Linked DNA regions of Homo sapiens: region 2 is linked to region 1. The links come from fine-mapping of genetic effects on gene expression. Tissue or cell type: cerebellar hemisphere. Region 1 holds a variant in brackets; the other region holds the start of a gene. All regions are shown on one strand. Distances are between the middles of the regions.

The links. PIP is the estimated chance that this variant, and not a neighbour inherited with it, causes the effect.
Region 2: it holds the start of IGLON5, and the variant in region 1 is fine-mapped to the expression of IGLON5 in cerebellar hemisphere (GTEx, PIP 0.98).

The regions. Positions count from the first base shown.
Region 1 is chr19:52,136,741-52,144,840 of GRCh38, reverse strand. It overlaps ZNF616 (zinc finger protein 616), which reads left to right and starts at 4,903. Exons shown (of 4, transcript NM_178523.5): 1 at 4,903-5,109. It also overlaps the pseudogene RPL37P23. RefSeq lists silencers at 4,608-4,657, 4,668-4,947 and an enhancer at 5,068-5,307. The variant A/G (reference allele first, on the strand shown) is at 3,842.
Region 2 is chr19:51,308,113-51,316,212 of GRCh38, reverse strand. It overlaps IGLON5 (IgLON family member 5), which reads right to left and starts at 4,569. Exons shown (of 8, transcript NM_001101372.3): 1 at 4,287-4,569. The coding sequence starts at 4,365.

The DNA.
Region 1 (8,100 bases):
CCAGGCCCTAACTCATCTTCTCAGCAAAATTGCACATTTGCTATGGACCTACTGGGTAGTACCTTCTTTGTTTCCCTTTTCTGAATGTGAGGGTTAATTCAGGTTTTATTTTTCTGTTCCACCATGAAATGTCGTGAGTGACGAGGACTCTATTGGGCTCTCAGTGAACAGAAGTGTCATGAGACTGTCATGAGATCCTTGCTTGCAACTGAAAGTTATGTTTGGGCTTTTTTTTTTAAAAAAAAATGTTAGAGGAAGTGGAGGTGAATATTTTGTGTGGGCAAAAGAGGAACAAATTATTTCTGATGGAAGCTGCGCTGTCACATATTGTAATATTTCGAGACAGGGTCTCGCTCAGTCACCCAGGCTGGAGTGCAGTGGTGCGATCTCAGCTCACTGCAACCTCCACCTCCTGGACTCAGGTGATCCTCTTCTCTCAGCCTCCCAAGTAGCTGGGACTACAGGTGCACACCAGCATACCTAGCTAATTTTTGGATTTTTTTGTAGAGATGGGGTTTCGCCATGTTGCCCAGACTGGGAGAAACATATTTTAAGGTATAATTAGCATGTTGTGTTGTTAAAATCTCAGTGATAAACTTGCATATTAGCAACAGAGCTCTTGTTTCCACATTATACAATTTCAGTTTATTTTCTTGTATCATTCCAATGCTTTCCCTGAACTTAAAATAAAAGGGATCCTCCACATATTGGTGGAACACATTCTTTGCATCTGTTATTTTTCTATTCTTTTTTTGCCACACAAATCTGAGAATGTCACCTCGATTTTTGGATCCTTCAAGTTCTTCAATGGAAGAAATGTAAGTCCATAAATTGGGTTAAATGGTTTCTAGTGGAGTGTGTAATGATAAAAAATTATTTTTAAAATGTAGTTTTGGCTGGGCTCTGTGGCTCATGCCTGTATTCCTAGCACTTTGGGAGGCTGAGGTGGACAGATTGAGCCCAGAAGTTTGAGACCGGCCTAGGCAACATTATAAAACCCCATCTCTACTAAAAACACAAAAACTGAGGTGAGAGGATCACTTGAGCCTGGGGAGGTGGAGGCTGCATGAGCCGTGATTGCACCACCACACTGCAGCCTGGGCAAGAGAGCAAGATCCCATCTCAAAAAAAATTATATTACAGTTGAAAAATCATAGAATACAATGTTTAATATGATAACTCAAATATGCATTGTTAGAGCCTTTGAAAAATGCAATTTTATTAAATTATTTAATATTTATTGTCTGATAAATTTAATTTTTATAGTGCATGTGTAAAAATATTATAGACAATTTGAACAGTATTTCAGAAGCACTTTCAACAATTATATTGTGTAAAGTGTCCTATGTATGCATGAATAAAGGACATGTATAAAGTATTTAGCATGAGGAAAATTGAGTCTTTCTCAACCTAGGCATCATAAGTTTCAGGAGTAAACATTCAGTATTTTTTTTTGTATTTTTTAAAACCAGAACATTTATTGCATGACTAATCATAGACATTCTTAAGATGAACTGGATGCTGCAACAGCTGCCCTCTTGGGTTTAAGTATTGTTCCTTCATAGAATCCATGCCTGAATCTGTGGTATACAATTTTTAGGTGCCTCATTCCACCAGTTCCGGTGGTATTTTGTCTTTTAGCCTTGGCACTCCAGTTATACTTTCTCTTGCGCTTGGCAGCGTAGCCACATTTGCCACAGGTCGACTTCTGAAGGTGGTAGGCCTTAGAGCCACGGCGGCAACACAACGTGTGCGTCTTATTGCGACGCTTTCCAAACAATGACGTTCCCTTCGTCATCTGGCTTCTGCGGCCAAGACCAGAGAGACCGGAAGAGAAGGCACTTCCGCTATATCACGCTCAGAAGCTCAACATTCCGTGTTGAATTAGAGTCTGAGCCGAGATGGCATTACTGCACTACTGCTTGGGTGACCGGAGCCAGACACTGCCTCAAAAAAAAAAATTCTCCCAGGCTCAAGCAATTTCCAACCTCAGCCTTCCAACTAGCTTGGACTACTGGTGCACACCATTACCCTTGGCTAATTTTTGTATTTTTTGTAGAGATAGAGTTTTGTAATGTTGCCCAGGTTGCTCTTGAACTCCTGGGTTCAAGCAATCTGCCCACCTCAGCCTCTCTCAATGTGCTGGGATTACAGGCGTGAGCCACTGCACCCTGCCTTGTTCCTTTACTTGCTTAGTAAACTTGCTTTCACTTTACAGTGTGAACTCACCCCTAATTCTTTCTTGCATGAGATCCAAGAACCCTCCCTTTTGGTTGTAACTGCCCAACAGGTTCTCCTTCCCTGCTGCCTAGACAGAGCTGATTCATCAAGACAGGGGAATTGCAAGAGAGAGTTTAATTCATGTGGAGCTGGCTGTACAGGAACCTGAAATTTTTTTATTACTCACATGAGTCTCCCTGAAAACTCGGGGATCAGGGTTTTTAAGGATAATTTGATAGGTAGGTGTCAGTGAGTCGGGAGTGCTGATTGGTTGGGTAGGAGACGAAATCATAGAGATCTGAAGCTGTCATTTTGCACTGAGTCAGTTCCTGGGTGGGGTCACAAGACCAGATGAGCCAGTTTATGGATCTGGGTTGGTGTCAGGTGATCCATCAAGTGCAGGGAATGCAAAATATCTCAAGCACTGATCTTAGGTTTTATAATAGTAATGTTATCCCCAGGAACAATCTGGGAAGGGTGAGAATCTTGTAGCCTCCAGCTACATGACTCCTAAACCATCATCTCTCACCTTGTGCCTAATTTGTTAGTCTTACAAAGGCAGTCTAGTCCCCAAGCAGGAAGGGGGTTTGTTTTGGGAAAGGGCTGTTAATGTCTTTGTTTCAAACTATAAACTAAGTTCCTTCCAAAGTTAGTTCAGCCTATGCCCAGGAATGAACAAGAGCAGCTTGGAGGTTAAAAGCAAGATGGAGTTGATTAGGTCAGATCTCTTTCACTGTAATAATTTTCTCAGTTATAATTGTGCAATGGAAGTTTCAGGTTCTGGATCAGGACCCCTTTCTGGTAACACAAGGATGGTTATGAATGCATCCAGATATCCAAAAAGTTATCTCTGAAAGCCAGAGATTTCCTTTCCCTATGGGTTCTTCCCTTGCATGTCAACCCAAGGATTCACTGGGGACCTAGAATTGTGCAGGGCAGTTAGGAAGAGAGAGACAAAAGAGAGAAGAGGTGAAGTAGTTTTGAAGAAGAGAAAGAAGGTCCCATGCAGCCTCAGTTTTTTTTCCAACAAACTTTTCATGCTGGGAAATAGGATCCTGGTTTATTTGTGGGAGGGATTTTATAGGAGGGTGAGAAAAAAATGCCCTTTGAGGGTAGAGTCTGTGGAGCCCTAATTGGGGAAAAGGAGTCAGCCTGAAAGGACCAGGAGAAAGCAAAGAGATAAAGCAAATAAGCTATAAATCTTTCTTCATGGTCCAGAACATATAAAAAAAAATAGAGGAAGCAGATAAGCTGTAGGTCTCTTTTTCTTTATGGCCAAGGACATATGGCCTTTCTGTGGAAAGAACGTAAATAAGTCACAAACTTTCTGCTTTCATTTATCATCAAACGCCTCAGCTAACAGAAGAATGCAAGTTAGCTCCCTGCTACCTTGGCCTCCCAAAGTGTGGGGATTATAGGCGTTAGCCACTGCACCCAACCAAATCTCCTCTTCTCATGGCTCACTGCAGCCTTCACCTCCTGGGCTCAAATGATCCTCCTTCCTTACCCTTCCGAGTTGCTGGGCCCACACGTGCAGGCCACCATGTCCAGATAATTTAATTTTTTGTAGAGAGGTCTGGCTATGTTGCCCAGGATGATCTCAAATCCCTGGCCTCAAGCA[A/G]TTCTGACACCTCAGCTTCCCAAGTAGCTGGGACTACAAGAGTGCATTACCAAGCCTGGCTACTTTTTGTATTTCTTGTAGAGATGGGGGTCTCACGATGCTGTCCAGGCTGGTTTTGAACTCTTGAGCTCAAGTGACCTGCCCACCTGGGCCTCCAAAACTGCTGGCCCATCTCAAAAGACTTAATCCATTTCAGTATCAACTCTCAAAAGTCTTAATCCATTCCTGTATCAGCTCTTAGGGCAGAATACCCCCTAAATATTATCTGAACCACACATGGGTGAGAATCAAGGTGTGATTCATCCTGAGGCAAAATTTCTGCCCAGCTGTGAATCTGTGAGGCCAGAGAAGTTATCTGCTTCCAAAATATAATGGTGATAAAGGCATAGGATACATCCCCCAGCCCTGGTAACCACCCTTCTAATCTGTTACTGTAAATTTGACGTTTGTACTTTGCACGTGTAAAAGCACAGGCAGTATTTGTCTTTCTGTGTCTAGCATATTTCGCTTGGCATAATGTCTTCCGGGTTCCTGGATCCAGCCACGGCTCCACATCAAATCCCCAGCGAGATCCTAGTTCCCTGACTATTGAGTAGCTTCAGCATCATCGGCAAGAGTGGATGGAGTCCACCAAGCTTGTAAAAATCGGTTTTGACTTAGTTCAACTTGTTAAGAAATCATCTTAGTTTCTAATATAAGTGGACCACAACTTTAAGCTTTAACCTTAAATTTTGAAACATTAACTTAAAATAGGCAGGCAGCAACGCTGCTTCACAGGACAAGAAGTAGTCAGAAAACCAAAGACATGCTGCCTGTGAACCAGAGTAAATAACAGGCTCTATTTCGGCCCCGCTTACCCCATGAAACCCCGCCCCATCCTCCGCCGCGGCTCCGTCCCGCCCCACCTAGCCACGCCCACTGCCGCTCCGGCCCGGCTCCACCCTCTCAGGGTCCCTCCCCGAGTCAGGCCCCTCTTTCCGACCCGCCCCTTGCTGGTCGCGGCTCGCCCAGGCCCCGCCCCCTGGCCTCCCAGTTTTTTCTCTCCGCTAGCAGTTTCCGTCACTCCCGGAAGCAGATTGCGCCAGGGAAAGGCCTTATCGCTGTGTGTGTGTTTCAGTCTACGTGGATTAAACATTACTTCGCTCCGTCTGCCTGGATTAAACGTGCACTTTGCAGTCCTCACTTCTCCGTACCAGTGATCTGGGGATCGCTACGGACCTTAAAATACCCATAGCCCCTTCGCCCCTGCAACAGGCACTTCTCCCCACGTAAGTCCGAGAATTGCTTCCCTGTCGGTTTAAAATCTCTCTCAGGCTGTTCCTTGCCCCCTGCCTTTCTGCCATGTAGATAACCATGTCGATAACCCCATTCAGGTCGTGTTCCTGCTTAAAACTCTCATTGACCCCTGCTTCGGCCCCGGGCGAAGTCAAGTCCTCCCTCGCGAGGTGGATTCCCACCAGTCGAGACCCCCGAGCTTCGCCCTTGTCGACGCCTGGAGGGGAGCGCCCGCTGCCCAGCTCCTGAAGGAGCCGCTTCTTCTCCCAGGTCCTGGGATTCTGCAGACCCTCCCTGTCCTGAGACACCGTCCCCCGCGCCACCTAGTGTCCTCCGCGCGCCACCTAGTGTCCTCCTCACGCCGGGTCCTTCCCCTCCCCAGGCTGCCCCTTCACAGCCACTGCTTTTCCTGACTCCGCGTTGCAGGAGGTCACCCGAGTCTGTCTTGTGACACCCACTGTCGTTCCTTCCCAAATTTTTACTCCACTGGAAAATGTGCTCTTCCGGGAGGTGGGCATCGTATTCCTCCCCTTTCCTCCTGAATGTGTGGGTGAGAGGGATCAGGAGAGGAAAAGAGGGGGAGCGACGGGACAGAAAGAAAAACTGGGGAGAAAAGAATGAGTACACGGCAAAATGGATGATAATTTAGGTACTGGCAAAGAGAGCAAGAGTGCAAGAGGACGCATGGAGAAAGTAGCACGGGGAGAAAAGCACATAAAGAAATTAGGGAAAAGGGAGAGCTTCAGGGAGCTGAAGGGCAGCAAAATAGAGAGGGGCGGCAAAGGAGGAGGCACTGCAGTCAGACGCGGGGGGCGGAAAAGGTAAGAGTCGGAGCCGCGGCTGACAGAGCCACGTGGTGCTGGGACTGAAGGAGAGGGGAGTGGGTAACAAAGGAGAGTAGAGGGAGAACCACAGCAAGGAGGAAGCCTAGGAAGTTGGGGGTGCTAGAGAGTGGGAACAAAGGAGATGTAACAGGGAAAAGGGAATTTAACAGGGAAGAGGGATTTTAACAGGGAGAGCAGACAGGGAGCTCAGATGGGGGAAAAGAGGCAGGAATACGTGGCGGCTGGGGACAATGGGAAAGTTTGGGGAGAAAGAGCAACAAGAGGTGAAATAAATTTCGAAGCATTGGGCAGAATAGACATAAAAGAGGGAATAAAGAAAGGGGAGAAAAACAGCAAAGGGAAAAAAGACGTGCAGAATGAGAGCGGGAAACACATAGTAGTGAAGAGAGTGGGCGAGGACCCCACCCAGATGAGCTGTGAGTTGATTGGATATGGATGGTGGTTTTAATGTATTGATTTGTGACTTTATACTCTAATTTAAAATTTGTTTCTTTAAATTGTACTCATGAGGATGAAAATTACCACTCTTTTCTACAAGGCTTGTGCATTTTGTATTTGTTTATATCAAAAGATATTTGGAATCCCTATTTAGCCACAGGGCAGTGACTTGATTCAGTCATTTTGTAACTCTTCTTTCCAGGGAGGGAGTAGAGGATGGAGGAGGAGAGAAATAGGCAAGAAATGACTGACTGTCACTACAAGATGTATCTTTGGTTTTTTGTTTGTTTTTTCTCTTTTTGAGACAGGGTCTCTGTCGCCCAGGCTGGAGTGCGGTAAAATTATATCGGCTCACTGCAGCCTCTCAGCTGCACTCCATCCTCCTCAGCCCCTGAAGGTGCTGGGATTACATGTGTGAACCACCTCTACAGGCCTACAATGTATGTCTTTGAAGGAGAGTTGAGAGTGTTGGTTTTTTGTTTTGTTAATGGATTTACTTTTTTCCTTGTAGTTGCTTTACAGTTAATTCATTGTTATTTTGGAAGCTTGATTTAAATTTTAGTTTATTCAGTTTCTTCTATAATTACTAACTTCTGAAATAAGATTTGATGTCATCCTGTAATCAGCTGATGTCATTAATTTCTCAATATTGCCTTTTTTTAACTTTTACCCCATAATTTATTAGATTTTTCAAAAACTTTCCAAACTGTTAAAGCGTCCAGTGCGGTAAACTCACCACGAAGTACATTAGATTCCTCAGAACTTCTTCATTTTATAACTGAGAATTTGTACCCTTTGACCAACATTTCTCCACTTTCCCCACCCAGCATCCTGTGGTAACAACTGTTCCGCCTTATTACTATGAATTGGACTTTTTTAGATTCTACTTGTGAGAACATACAGTAGTTGTCTTTGTGTGTCAGTCTTATATCGCCCAGCATAATGTCCTCCAGATTCATCCATGTTGTTGGAAATAGCAGGATTTTATTTATTTTTATTTTTATTTTTTATTTTTGAGACAGAGTCTCGCTCGCTCTGTCGCCCAGGCTAGAGTGCAGTGGTGTGATCTCGGCTCACTGCAAGCTCCGCCTCCCGGGTTCACACCATTCTCCTGCCTCAGCCTCTTGAGTAGCTGGGACTATAGGCACCCGCCACCACGCCCGGCTAATTTTTTGTATTTTTTTTTTAGTACAGACGGGGTTTCACTGTGTTAGCCAGGATGGTCTCAATCTCCTGACCTCATGATCCACCCGCCTCGGCCTCCCAAAGTGCTGGGATTACAGGCGTGAGCCACTGTGCCCGGCAGGATTTTCTTTTTTATGGTTGAATAATATTCCATTATATAAATATACACACACACACTCTGTATATATATATATATATATATACACATACATAAATATATATACACACACATTTTCTTTACATATTCATTCCTGGATGGGCACTTTGGTTGTTTCTATATCTTGGCCGTTGTGAATAATACTGCAGTGATCATGAGGGGGCAGAAGTTCCTAAGTTTTTTGTTTTTTGTTTTTTTAAGTAGAGACATGGTCCCGCTGTTTTGTCCAAGCTGGTCTCTAACTCCTGGTCTCAAGCGATCTTCCCATCTCAGCTTCTCAGAGTGCTGGGATTATAGGCATGAACTACCACACCTGGCCTAGATGTCTCTTAAACATACTGATTGGATTGCCTTTGGAT
Region 2 (8,100 bases), 830 kb after region 1:
CCACCATGCCTGGCTTTTTTTTTTTTTTTTGTAGATATGGGGTTTCCCCATGTTGCCCAGGCTAGTCTTCAACTCCTGAGCTCAGGTGATTCACCTGCCTTGGCTTCCTGAAGTGCTGGGATTACAGGTGTGAGCCACTGCGCCCAGCTTTACCCTCCTTTCTGTTGGTCCCACCTCAAGGTCTTTACCTCTGCTGTCAACTTTGAAAGGTTGACTTCCGGCGGGGCGTGGTGGCTCACGCCTGTAATCCCAGCACTTTGGGAGGCCAAGACGGGCGGATCATGAGGTCAGGAGATCGAGACCATCCTGGCTAACACAGTGAAACCCATCTCTACTAAAAATACAAAAAATTAGCCAGGCGTGGTGGTGGGCGCCTGTAGTCCCAGCTACTTGGGAGGCTGAGGCAGGAGAATGGTGTGAACCCAGGAGGCGGAGCTTGCAGTGAGCTGAGATAGTGCCACTGCACTCCAGCCTGGGCGACAGAGCAAGACTCTGTCTCAAAAAAAAAAAAAAAAAAAAAAAAAGGTTGACTTCCCTCTTCCTTCAGGTCTTAACTCCACTCTCCCCTGCTCAGAGATGGTTTCCTCAACCACTTGAGCTTCAAAGGCCAAGTCACTTTTATCTTCTTTACATTACTCATCACTCTCTGAAATTATCTTTTATTTGTTTGTCTTTAGGTTTTGGTTTTGGTCTTTGATCTCTCTCCATCCCACTATGATCTAAGCTCCGTGAGGACAGTGACTGCCTGGTTCACTCACTGCCATATGTATATATCCAGTGTCTAGAATAGCGGCCCTGGTCCCCAAGAACATTTGCTATATGAACCAACAACCAAGCACAGCCCACAAGCCAGATGAACCTGGAGCTCAGAGGTCCTGGGGAGAGCTAGCTTGTCAGGGGCAGTGCTGGGACTCAAATCTGGGGCTCCTGCCCCCTCCTGACCATCATCACTCTGCTAGCTGCCCCAGAAGCAAAGGAACCACCCACCTCATTTGCTGCTGCAGAAGCGGCCATTTGATTTTGTTGAATTGTTTTAAAATACCACAATGTAGCTGCTTTGTAAATAAATATGTATATGTGAGGGGGTGCGTGTGTGTTGGCATAAAAGATTTAGAAAAGAATTGAAGATAGATGAATATTTATGGATGTAAGGGAGGTATGGTTAAGTGGGAAAAGGCCGATTGCAGAGAAATGGGCTTATTTTGTTTCTATTTTGGGGGAAAAAAATCAACAAACCAACCAATCCATCACTTATGTTGTCCTCTGTGTGTCGTGTCTAAGTCTGCAGAAGTGAGAGAAAGCTATGGAAGGATGCACTCCAGCCACAGACCGGTTCTCTCAAGACAGTGGTTGTGAGAGTGGTGGCAGGGCAGGAGCACAATGGGGTTTGCCCTTATCAGAGGCGGACTGTTTGCAGTGTATTCCTCTTGTAACTTGGACAAGATCATGAATAAAAGAAGAGAGAAGATGCTAGTTTGCATATCTTGCCATAAGCTTTTTTTCCCAGACAGCTCAAACTATCCATGGGTGGGTGGGGGTGTCTTTCTGGCATCTCGTTCTGTCTCAACCCCACCCCATCCCCTCTCGTCCCCAGTTCTCAAAAGGGGAACCTAAGACCAGAGATGGGAAAAGACTTGAGCAGGGTCACAAGCCACCTCCTGGCTCTGCCACAGCTTCCTGCCCCAGTCTAGCCCCGTAATGATTTATAGGGACTTTAAGAATGAATGTGGGGGCCAGACAGTGGCTCATGCCTGTAATCCCAGCACTTTGGGAGGCTGAGGTGGGCAGATCACCTGAGGTCAGGAGTTCGAAACCAGCCTGGCCAACATGGTGAAACCCTGTATCTACTAAAAGTACAAAAATTAGCCCAGCGTGGTGGCACACACCTGTAGTCCCAGCTACTTGCGAGGCTGAGGCAGGAGAATCACTTGAACCCGGGAGGCAGAGGTTGCAGTGAGCTGAGATTATGCCACTACACTCCAGCCTGGCAGCAAGAGTAAAACTCTGCCTCAAAAAAAAAAAAAATAGTGAATGTGAAAAATGGGAAGTTGCAGTGAGAGAGAGAAGGGGAGGGAGAGAAGAAACAGGAAAGTGGGGGAAAGGTCACAAAGGGTACAGGATCAGGGAAAGAAGAGGAGGAAGAAGAAGACAAGAGATAAGGACAAGGAGAGAAAGAAAGAAGAGGTGGCTGGTGCAGTGGCTCACACCTGTAATCTCAGCACTTTGAGAGGCCCAGGTGGGAGGATCACTTGAGGCCAGGAATTTGAGACTAGTCTGGGCAATATAGTGAGACCCCCATCTCTACAAAGAAAAAAAATTAAAAATTAGCCAGGTGTGGTGGCGTGCATCTGTGGTCCCAGCTACTCCAGAGGCTGAGGTGGCAGGATCGCTTGAGGCAGGGAAATTGAGGCTGCAGTGAGCTGTGTATGCTTGCACCACTCCACTCCAGCCTAGGTGAGAAAGTCAGACCCTGTCTCAAAAAAACAAGAAAAAGAAAGAAAAAAAGAGAAGAAAGAAGAAAGAAAGAAAGAAAGAAAGAAAGAAAGAAAGAAAGAAAGAAAGAAAAAGAGAGAGAGAGAGAAAAAGAGAAAGAAGGAAAGAAAGAAAGAAGGAAAGAGAAAGAAGGAAAGAGAAAGAAAAAAGAGAAAGGTAGGTCAGAACAAGAAGGAAATGAATGAGAGAAGGAAATGAGAGAAGTTAATGAAGATTAAGGCATAAGTGAGGAAGCAAGCAAGTATCAAGAGACTGAGTCATGCAATGGGCAACAGTCTGAAAAGCAGAGACAGACAGATGTGGAACTGTGCTGTCAGCAGCAGGGATGGAGAGACAATGACCCAGAGACAGAGGCAGGTGGAAAGTCAGCAGTGGATAACAGAGATGGGAAGGGATGGGAACCTCCAGAAATGGCAGGGACACAAAGACCTAAAGAGATGCATGACAGAGACAGAGACAGGTGGTCAGAAAGTCAGAGGGCGATTCAGACTGGTCAGGTGGGAGACGGGGGAGGACTAGCAAGGGACTGAGGCTGTGGCCCACCAGGTCCCTGCGTCCTGCGTGGATGGGGCTGTGTTTGTGTGACTGGTGTCTGCAGGTGCTGCTTCGGGTGGGACGCTGTGACGGGGTTTCTGTGCCAGACTTGGTCTATGCGGGCGGCCTCTCTGAGACTCTTGGGGACTCTGTCGGGGTTCTTGGTTGTCCCTGGAACTCTTTGTTCAGGGGAGGGCCTGGGGGAATCCTCCAGAAAGTCTGAATTAACCCAGCTCCCTGCCCTCCTGAGCGCCCACCCTCCAGCCTCCTGCCTCCTTGCACTCTCCTCCCTTTTCTTAGGGGGAAATCTAGGAATCTCCTTGACCACCCCCTGCCTGCCAGGCCCTACTGGGGAGACTCAAGGTCCAGCTATCTAACCTCAGTGCAGAAACCTGCCCCTGGCCCTCTCCCCAACTGGGAGGGCCGGGCCGGGCCGGGGTTAACCCTTCAACCTGCTTTAACCCTTCCCTTCCGTCTTTCCTTCATCCTCCCATGCCCATCGCTCTTCCACTGTCCAGCCCCACGAACCTAGACATTCAATCAGAGCTTGGGAATCCAAGACCCCAGCCCAGCACCCCAACTTCCTGTATCTCCAGCTCCCTTCTCCCCCACATAACTGCAACCTCCCCAAGTACCAACACTTTCTCTCAACCTAGATGACCCTGCTGGGGGATTTCAGACCCTTCCCCTCTTTTCCTGACCCTGGGACTAGGTCTGTGGACACCCTTGTCCCCTCCTCTTACTGACCCTGGGAAGGCATCCATCCCCTGACCTCTGTCCCGAGATGACTACCCCAGCCCCCGGCAAGGACCTCTTCAGGGACCCTCTCCACGTACAGATGAAGACCCCTAACAGGGCATTATCCCCTGCCCCCCACCCCAACTCAGTTCGGAGATCCGACCCGGGGACCCCGAGTCCAGTGTCTGCCCCCTCCTCAACAGGAGCCGCAGACTCCTGCCCCCAGGCAGGGCTAGGTGTCTGCGACCCTCTTGCCTGCTCGGGGAAGCAGACCTCCGCCCCTAGACCCGGCTCCGGCCCGAGGACGCCGACCCCTGCCCCGGGGCGCGGACCCCCACGTCCGAGGTCCCCCTGCCCAGCCAGGGAATGCAGACCCCACCCCCGGGCCCAGACCCCGGCGTCCCGGGGCCTCCCCGCGCCGGCCCAGGGATGCAGCCCTCGACCCCCACCCCTGATCCCCCGATTACCCACCCAAGACCCTGGCGTCCCGGCCGAGCCCCCCGCCCCCGGCGCTGCGGTACCTCGGCTGATGACGGCCAAGCCGGCCAGGGCGGCGGCGGCGAGAAGCCGGAGCCGGGCCCCGGGCGCAGGGGGGGGCATCGCGGCAGAGGCGGCGCGGAGGGGGAGGGGAAAGGGGGGGCCGGTCCGGGGCGCGCGAGGCCTGGGGGGAGAGGGGGGAGGGGGAGGGGGACCCCGCCTGCGCTGCACCGGCCCGGGGGGCGGCGGGGGCGGGGGGAGGGGGCTGGGGGGGCGCGACGAGGCGGCTGGAGCTGCTGCAGACCCGGGGAGGGGGGCGGCGCTGACGGGCAGGGAGACCGGCCAATCAGGAGAGGTGGGGGGCCGGGGAGGCGGGGTCAAGGGGGGGTTGCTTGTTGGAGGGAGAGGCCTTTGTTACTGCGGCCCGGCCCCTACCCCTCCCGCCCCAGGCGTCCCCACGTCTTTCCACCACATCCGCAGAACACGGAGTCTGGGATACTTCCTAAAACCCAGCTCCCTCCTCCTTCAAGTCCCAATCTCATCCTCCCATGGACCTAGGAGACTAGCCCCAGTCCCTCCTCTCTCAGACCCAGGAGCCCAGGTCCCCAGCCCCTCCTCCCTCAGACCCTGGAGTCCAGGCCCCCAGCCCCTCCTCCCTCAGACCCAGGAGTCCAGGCCCCCAGCCCCTCCTCCCTCAGACCCAGGAGTCCAGGCCCCCAGCCCCTCCTCCCTCAGCCCAGGAGTCCAGGCCCCCAGCCCCTCCTCCCTCAGACCCAGGAGTCCAGGCCCAGCCCCTCCTCTCTCAGACCCTGGAGCCCAGGCCCCCAGCCCCTCCTCCCTCAGACCCAGGAGTCCAGGCCCCCAGCCCCTCCTCCCTCAGACCCTGGAGCCCAGGCCCCCAGCCCCTCCTCCCTCAGACCCAGGAGTCCAGGCCCCCAGCCCCTCCTCCCTCAGACCCAGGAGTCCAGGCCCCCAGCCCCTCCTCCCTCAGACCCTGGAGCCCAGGCCCCCAGCCCCTCCTCCCTCAGACCCAGGAGTCCAGGCCCCCAGCCCCTCCTCCCTCAGACCCAGGAGTCCAGGCCCCCAGCCCCTCCTCCCTCAGACCCTGGAGCCCAGGCCCCCAGCCCCTCGTCCCTCAGACCCAGGAGTCCAGGCCCCCAGCCCCTCCTCCCTCAGACCCAGGAGTCCAGGCCCCCAGCTCCTCCTCCCTCAGACCCTGGAGTCCAGGCCCCCAGCCCCTCCTCCCTCAGAGCCAGGAGTCCAGGTCCCCAGCCCCTCCTCCCTCAGGCCCAGGAGTCCAGGTCCCCAGTTCCTCCTCCCTCAGACCTAGGAGTCCAGGCCCCCAGCCCCTCCTCCCTCAGACCCAGGAGTCCAGGTCCCCAGTCCCTCCTCCCTCAGACCCTGGAGTCCAGGCCCCCAGCCCCTCCTCCCTCAGACCCTGGAGTCCAGGCCCCCAGCCCCTCCTCCCTCAGACCCAGGAGTCCAGGCCCCCAGCCCCTCCTCCCTCAGACCCAGGAGTCCAGGCCCCCAGCCCCCTCCTCCCTCAGACCCAGGAGGCCAGGCCCCCAGGCCCCTCTTCCTGTGGGCCACAGTTCAGCTTTTCCATCTATTTTCATGGATAACGAAAACACTGACTTTTGGAGTGAAATTTGCTTTTTTCCTCCACCCCAACCCTCATCCCCAGTATAATAAGGCAATGGGAAGGGATTGGGGGACTTATCTTGGGGGAGCAGGTGGGGAGGAAACCATAATCCAGGGTTTAGGTGCAAAACATCCTGGCTCCCTGTTCTTTCACTGACTTGGCTGTGTGACCTTGGACAAGCCATTTCTCTTCCCAGAACCTCAGCGTCTTCCCCTGCAAGGTGGAAAATTCCCTATTGCCCAAGGTTATTGAGAAGAATGAGAGATCTTGGAGCAGCTCCTGGCTCCAGCCAGCACCTCAAAAACCTGTAGTGAGTTTCTCCCTCCCCTTTCCACTTTGCATCTGTTTACTAGGTGTATTCCACCCTCCTGTTCCCGTCCCCTTGGCATACGCAGGAGCAAAATAATCTCTGAGTCTACGTTATTTCTGTAGCAGTTCAAGGCAGGAGCTTTTGAAGTTACCCAGTAGGGGCTGTTCTGCCTCAGAAACATATCCATCCTCAATTCCTTCCCCCTCCACTCACATCCAATTTGTCTGCAAGAACCGCTGGCTCTGTCTCCAAAACAAATCTCTGCTTTGTCCTTTTCTTACTCTCCCATCCTGGTCTGAGCTTTCACCACCTCTCCCTGTAGGACTCTGGCTGTAGCAGCCTATGCTCTACTCTCTTGGCCTCTACCTTTGCCTCCACCTTCAGAACAACCACCACTAAACACCTGGACCAGCTAGGGCCACTCCCTGCCTCAATCACTCAGCTCGCTGTGACCTTCTTTCCATTCCTTAAACAAACCGAACAATTCCAGCCCCAGGGTCTTTGTACTTGCCGTTCTTTCGCTGGAATGCTCTTCCTACCACACTGGCAGATGACTCTTTCTTATTTAAGGCTCATCTTCTCCCCTTTAAGAAGCCTTCATTGATCATAGTTTCCAAAGTAGCTGCTACTCCCAGCACAATAACTCTACGTCATACCTCTTCATAGCACTAACAATGTTCTTTTGCCTTTTCCTTTTCTTTTCTTTCTTTCTTTCTTTCTTTCTTTTTTTTTTGACAGAGTTTTGCTCTTCTTGCCCAGGCTAGAGTGCAATGGTATGATCTTGGCTCACCACAACCTCTAACTCCTGGGTTCAAGTGATTCTCCTGCCTCAGCCTCCTGAGCAGCTGGGATCACAGGCATGCACCATCACAGTCGGCTCGTTTTGTATTTTTAATAGAGATGGGGTTTCTCCATGCTAGTCAGGCTGGTCTTCAACTCCTGATCTCAGGCGATCTGCCCGCCTCGGCCTCTTAAAGTGCTGGGATTACAGGTGTGAGCCACTGCGCCCGGCCGATTTCCTTCTTTCACTGTTATTTTTAGTTGCTCTCCCCCTACTCCCACTTCCAGAATGTAAGCTTCACGGAGTTTTTTGTTTTTGTTTTGGTCTGCTTTTGTTCAAGGCTGGATTTCCAGAGCCCAACCTAGTGACTGACATGTAGTACGTACTCAAATAAATACGTACTGCATGAGTGAGTCGGATGGCTTAGCTCCGTTTGGAGAGATGGAGGGAAGTAAGATACAGAGGGAGGAAGAGACCTGCCTGCGTTCACAAAACTGGGTGATGCAAAAGTTAATGGTGTTCTGCAGGTGGCTTGCACTGGCTCAAAAGAGCTGATTATTAAATTTTCAGAAATTGTGCAAGCCAGGTGTTAAACCATTATTAGCTTGAAACTGGCCATGTTGGGAGGATTTACACCACAGCAATGGTGAACACTGAATCAGCTTGCCAGCCCACCACTCTACAAAATCCATTGTGATCCTGGTGAAAGGCCATTTATTGATCCTCTTTGAATTCCGGACCGTTCAGACTTAGGATGAGAACAGGAGCTCCCTCTTCCTGAAATGGCCCATCCCATGCCTGATAAAATATGAGTGCTTACTCGGTGTAGGGATCTTTCTAAGCACTTTGTACATATTATCTCCTTGAAGCATCATGACACCCTTCTGAGGCAGCACTTATCTTTATCCCTATTTCACAGGTGAGGACAAAGAGACATGGAGAATTTTTTACATCCCAAGAGCTATAAATGTGTGATACTGTGAAATATATATTTGGTCTTCATAACACCCCCGCTACGTCCACTGGCAAGCCCCAGGTAGCTTCAGTATGGGGGTTGGTCACAGGAAAGAACAAGGCATGATTAAAAGGTTGGGACTTTCAGCTCATCTCCCAGCCTCTGTGGAA